Regions from separate parts of the Homo sapiens genome. Here region 2 is linked to region 1. Evidence: fine-mapped expression QTL. A gene starts in region 1. The other region holds a variant in brackets. All regions are shown on one strand. Distances are between the middles of the regions. Region 1 holds the start of PSIP1 (PC4 and SRSF1 interacting protein 1). Region 2 overlaps TTC39B (tetratricopeptide repeat domain 39B).

What was found.
Region 2: its variant is fine-mapped to the expression of PSIP1 in cerebellum (GTEx, PIP 0.96).

What each region holds. Positions count from the first base shown.
Region 1 is chr9:15,509,593-15,512,506 of GRCh38, forward strand. PSIP1 (PC4 and SRSF1 interacting protein 1) reads right to left here and starts at 1,378. Exons shown (of 16, transcript NM_033222.5): 1 at 1,225-1,378; 2 at 525-737. The coding sequence starts at 596. RefSeq lists enhancers at 491-1,444, 1,445-2,397 and silencers at 504-703, 804-853, 984-1,043, 1,054-1,263, 1,284-1,363.
Region 2 is chr9:15,296,960-15,299,873 of GRCh38, forward strand. The region is part of intron 1 of TTC39B (tetratricopeptide repeat domain 39B); the gene reads right to left. Among named protein-coding and RNA genes, the nearest start is that of TTC39B, 8.8 kb to the right of the region's middle. The variant G/A (reference allele first, on the strand shown) is at 1,266.

The sequences.
Region 1 (2,914 bases):
AGAATATCCAGTCCTGAATCTGTATTAAACAAGCAAATCCAGAAGGCCTCATCAAGTACAAGGTATTTTTTTTAAAACCCTGTAAATCCAATTTAATCACATACGCACTTCTCTGACATCCAAGTGTTTGTGTGTAATCTGCACAAATTCCATTGATATTTTGTACTTGATCCAAAACTATGGAAATGTCAATGTTTCACTAATTTTTAAACAAAAATTCACTCTTCATTATTTCACCTACAATGGAATATTAACTAGCAACGCATTTAAATATTTCCTAGGAAGAAAATCTGTCCAAGTCTGCCAATAAACCATAGGGAAATACACAGGTATGTAGAAACGTCTGGATTTTCATAATTACACGGGAGATTATTGGGCAAAAAACTAAAATGAAAGGTCAGGTTACAAATGAGACTAAAGCGAGGGAGAGAAAGGACAGAAGAAAAAATAAAGAGACACGGTGGGCAGCAGGCCTCTGGAGAGGAGGGTAGCACTGCTAAGCGCGAGGGCTACAAATCACTTACTCGAGCTGGCCAATGGGGATAACCTTTCATCTTGGCGAAGATGAGGTCTCCAGGTTTGAAATCGCGAGTCATGTTTCGGGGGCGAGACCGGGGGTCCGAAGCCCGGGAGGCGGCGAGGAGATGCGGCGGCGCGGGGATGCGGGCGGCGGACGCGGGCCCAGCTACCGGGCCCGCGGGCGGGGGAGGATGCCTCGGGGCGTCCCGACGCGCCTGCTAGGGAGAGCACCGAGGGCGGTTAAAGCGAAGAACCCCGAAGGGAGGGGCCGCAAGGGGAGGGGGAGGGGAACCGGCGGGTGGGGGTGGGAGAGCGAGGGGACGGCCGCCTCCCGCTCCTCCCCCGCCAGTGCGCTGCCTCCGCGCTGGAGCAGGTCCTCCACCCCGCCACCGAAGAGACGCCACCACCTGAAGCAGGGATGCTGCCCGGCCAGAAATCGCCCGTCTGCCCGCCCCATCTTTCTCCGGGCTTTTTCCACCGAGCTTAAGCCCCAAAAGGGAGGGGGTGCATGGGAGAGAAAAAGGCAGGGATTCCGAGAAGCGAGCGGCCCCCTTCCGCCCACGCAAGGCCTCCCCCGCAACCTGCTGCCCAGCGGCTGCAGCCTCGGCCCCCTCGGCTCCCGGGCGGGCCGCGTCCACTTCCCCGCTACAGCCAGGAGCGACGCCACCGAGGGGGGGGCGGGGCGAGTCCCCGTCGCCCGCTCACCTGCCGGGGCCGCGGGCGCCGACGCTGCGGTTGCTGGCCGGTCGCCTCTACCCGCGTCCACGCAAGCCACCTGCGCCACCAGCTGCCGCAGAGGCGTCTCAACGGCTCGGAATCGCAACCGCGCCGCCGCTGCCGCCGCCGTAGCTGCGCTGCTCCCGCGCGGCTCCCGCTCGGCGCCCGCTAGCACTGGGGCGCGACCAACTGTTTACCGAGAGAGGGGGGATGTTGCAGCACCCGGCGAAGCTGTGTGGCTCCGAAGCGGATTTTCTGGAAACCCTACGTCCCCAAGTTCGCTTTCATGTAACAGGTGCATGCAGATGGAGAGGAAGACGCAAGCGAAGAAGAAAGGACTGGGCGAAAATAGCTCGGCCTGCCGCAAGTTCCCCCTGCGGTTTGCGGAGTGGTCGGGCCCGGCCCGCCCCTGCTGGCTTCTCTGCGTGTGTGTATTTGTATGTGTACTGTATGTAAAAGGCGGGGAGGGAGGAAATGATTGTTGTGGACGCGGTTTTGGGGGCGGGTATCCGGGCCTCTCTCCCTTGGCTGCGTGTTAGGGAGAAAGTGGCAGTAAAGATTCATGTTCTTGTATCGTTTCCAGGGTGGGGAGGTTTGAATGCTGCTTTTGCGCGGTTTGCATCATCCAAAAAAGAGGAGCTGTACGAAAACCCTAAGATGAAATTGGAGCATGCGGCGGTTGCAGGGTGTGCTGCATCTAGGCCTCTTGCACCTCGCTGAATGGGCCTCGTAGTCTCCTTTTCCTTGAAATTGTAGTATGAGAGAGCCCTATTTCATTTCTTTTGCATTTGCATCACCAAGAACTATTAAGAAAAATGCAACCCTACTGAATGCAAAATGCGAAGGGTAGAAAACAATGACAGGAAAACAGAAACCTTTTAGATAGGATGTGAGTTTGGGCCCTAACTAAATTTTAGCTGCATCTAAATTTTATTTCCCTAGTAGAATAGGAGCTGGTAGGTGGTACAATGTGTAAGTGTTACTAAACCTCAAATATTTTCTCTCTTAAAATGCTCTTCAAGGGATTTTAAAGGTTAATTTTTTGATCCTTTAGAGAGGCTGAAAATATTTTTAAAAAGAATGTTAAGACATATAAAAATAAGAATAATAAGACATATATTAGCACCTAGATAATACTGTTTTAAATACGGGACTCAACTGGAAATGAATTAGGAAATTTTTTTTGAATTGGTAAAAATTGAGAATTTTTTGAAAGCGATACAGCATGTCTTTAAAAAGGAATGAAAGAAGACAGTCCCAAAGTAAAATGTCCTGTAAGGAGTTTCGAGAAACTAAGTATACCTGGGCAATATGCAGAGAGTTCCAAGTGGAGCAAAAAGAGAAATTGGCAGAGGAGAAGGAAGGGTTGGTGAAATGTCTTGAAGCTTCTCATTCTGAATATGAATTTAATGTGTGTAGTAGGAAGCTACTATAGGTTGCTCAGCAAGAAGGGGGTAAAAATGATTATTTAACCAGTTCTTGATGTTTCAAGGTAGATGTTAGTAGAAAGAGGCTGGGGGTAACTGGAGTACTCATGAAATGACGCATTTCTCAGTGAGAATGGTGACTAAGAAAAGGGAAGGAAGAGCACAACTAAGTAATTACACAAAGGAATGATTGTCAGGTGTTGGCTATAAATTATGCATAGGAAAAGGTGGAAAAAGATGTATTGAAGAAA
Region 2 (2,914 bases), 210 kb before region 1:
CTGTGTGACAGAGCAAGACCCTGTCTCTTTAAGAAAAAAGAAAAGAAAAGAAAAAAGAAAAGCCAAACTCGGTAGCTAAGCATTCAAGGCCAGATTCTGATCAATCTGGCTGGAACACACTCACAGCAGCTCTCCTGCATTAATCACTTAAAGGGGGCATATACTGTGCTCCAACCACATGGCCTCCAGCCTACTTCACCACGCCTGAGGAGCGCAGTTCCCCTGCTGTTCCCTCTGCCTGAAGGAATGAGGGGTGATCTCCTCCCTTGCTGCCTGCTGAAATTCCACCTCATGAAGCCCAGGTCGAATGTCACCTTCTAGAAGACACATGTCAAAAACTCAAAGGAACTTTTACAGACAGATCATCAGTTTCAACTCCTTCGTGTCGCCTATGAGGAAAACAAGGCTCAAAAACATTAAGGGACTTGCTCTAAGTCACACAGCTAGTCAGTAAAGACTTGGTCTGGAAACAAGTCAGCAGGTGGGGTGGGCAGCAGGCAGGAGAGAGAATGTCCAGGTGGACCACCCTGTGACAGCCCTCTTCTCCTTGGAGCACAGGACACTTGAACCCTCTCTAGACTCTACCCTGCACTCCAGGTTACAGCTGTCTGTGTCCATATTTCTAACTGCCTTTTTCAGAGGGATCCACACCATATCTTACCCATCATGTTGCCTTAATTATTAGGTACCCTTGGGTCGTCAGTGAGTCCCAATAATCATTCAACAAACAAAACAAAACACCAGCCTCCGTCACTCTGGGCTTGTCTACCTCCAATCAGCCTCCACGCCTTGCCAGGGAGCCACCTAAAATACTGCTTGCTCCCCACCACTCCTCACTGAAACCCGCAGATGCACACCATGATCTCCACAATCTGACATGAAAGTCTCTGAACGGCCCTTCTTACCTGTGATGGTTAATTTTAGGTGTCAAGTTGACTGGATTAAGGGATACCCAGATAGAGAGAACAGGTAAAGATTTTATTTATGGGTATGTCTGGGAGAGTGTTTCCAGAAGAGACTGGCATTTGAATCCATGAACAGGGTAAGGAAGACCTACCCTCACCCAAAGTTTTGGGTACCATCCACTCAGCAGAGGACCCAGATAGAACAAGAAGACAGAGGAAAGCCAAATTTGCTTTTTCCCTCTTCTGGAGCTGGGAAGTCCTTTTTCTCCTTCTCTTGGACATCAGAACTCAAGGTTCTCCAGCATTCGGTCTCCAGAACTTGCACCTGTAGTCCCCCAGGTTCTGAAGCCTTCATCCTCA[G/A]ACTGAGTTATACCATCAGCTTCCATGGTTTTGAGGCCTCTGTGCTTGGACTGAGCCACGCTACCAGCCTCTGCAGCTCTCCAGCTTGCAGACAGCATATGGTAGGGCTTCTCACGCTCCATAATTGTATTAGTCCATTTTCATACTGCTGTGAAGAAATACCCAAGACTGCATAATTTATAAAGAAAAAGAGGTTTAATGGACTCACATTTCCACACGGCTGGGAAAGCCTCAAAATCATGGTGAAAGATGAAGGAGGAGCAAAGGCACATCTTACATGGCAGCAGGCAAGAGAGTGTGTGCGGGGAAACTGCCCTTTATGAAAACATCAGATCCCATGAGACTTATTCACTGTCACAAGAAGAGCATGGGAAAACCCACCCCCATGATTCAATTACCTCCTACTGGGTCCCACCCATGACACGTGGGGATTATGTGAGCTATGACTCAAGATGAGATGTGGGTGGGAACACAGCCAAACCATATCAATAATCATGTGAGACAACTCCCATAATAAATCCCCTCTCATCTATCTATATATTATGTCCCATTTCTCTGGAGAACTAACAAAGTACCCTTCCAGCCTTGATTCCTGACACTCCACCTGTCCAGAGCACCACAGGATCTTCCTCACCTCTGCACCTTATCCCGCTATTCCCTCTCCTGGAAGACACTTCAAGAGCTCCCCCTTCCCCACATCACTTCTCCATGGCTAACCCCTACTCATTCTTCTTGACTCAGAATGTCTAAGAAATGGCCTCCTCCAGGAAATCATTCCTGACTACCCTCTCTCCCAGGAGAGGTGCCCTCCTCTGTGCTCACAAAGTACCCTGGCATCCCTCCTCCACCAGGTGGTTCTCAGAACACACATGTCCCCACTCTCCACTAGACCATAACCTGAGGCAGGAGCTGCATTTGCTTGTCCAGCACCTAACACAATACTCAACACATTAAGTCAGACTGAAAATTGTCACTCACTAGTTACCTTCAGATCCAACAAACATACAATGTATCATTTCACCAAAATATTTTAAAATACGTAGGCCCTATGTATATGACAGCATAATATCAGCAGTACCAAGGGGACACATCCACAGATCACAACAAAAAGCATTTACTACACACCTAGTCTTTAAATAAAGAGCTGAAGATGCATGATGGCATTAGGAACTGCCAGGCACTCCCCACTTCAGAAGTCCCTTTAGAGAGGTGTGATGACATCACCAATACAGCAACTGGCCGCGGTGGCTCTGGGTATAAACGGACTTGGTGCATCAGGAGGCAGCACAGATCCACGAAGCACAGGGGGAGAAAAGGAGAGTGCTGACTAAGGTGGTGGCCAATGGGAGGCTCAAAAAAGGAAAATCTCTCCCCCAGGAAGCCTCAAAAGCACCCACAGGAGTCCCCAGGTACTCATCTTTGGGAAGTGAATACAAAGTAACTTCAGGAGACTCCGCCTGAGATGCTACTGGGGCATCCAAGACTGGAGATTGGTCGGCTGTCAACAGATGGCTAGATGGAAACTCTGAGCTTCACTGAACTCACAGTATCAGATTCACACTAAATGACTGGTAACAGCACCCATGGGCAGGAAACTGAGATAAGAAGGCAAGCAGCTAGCACAGGAAGAACTGATACTTGTCTGCAGA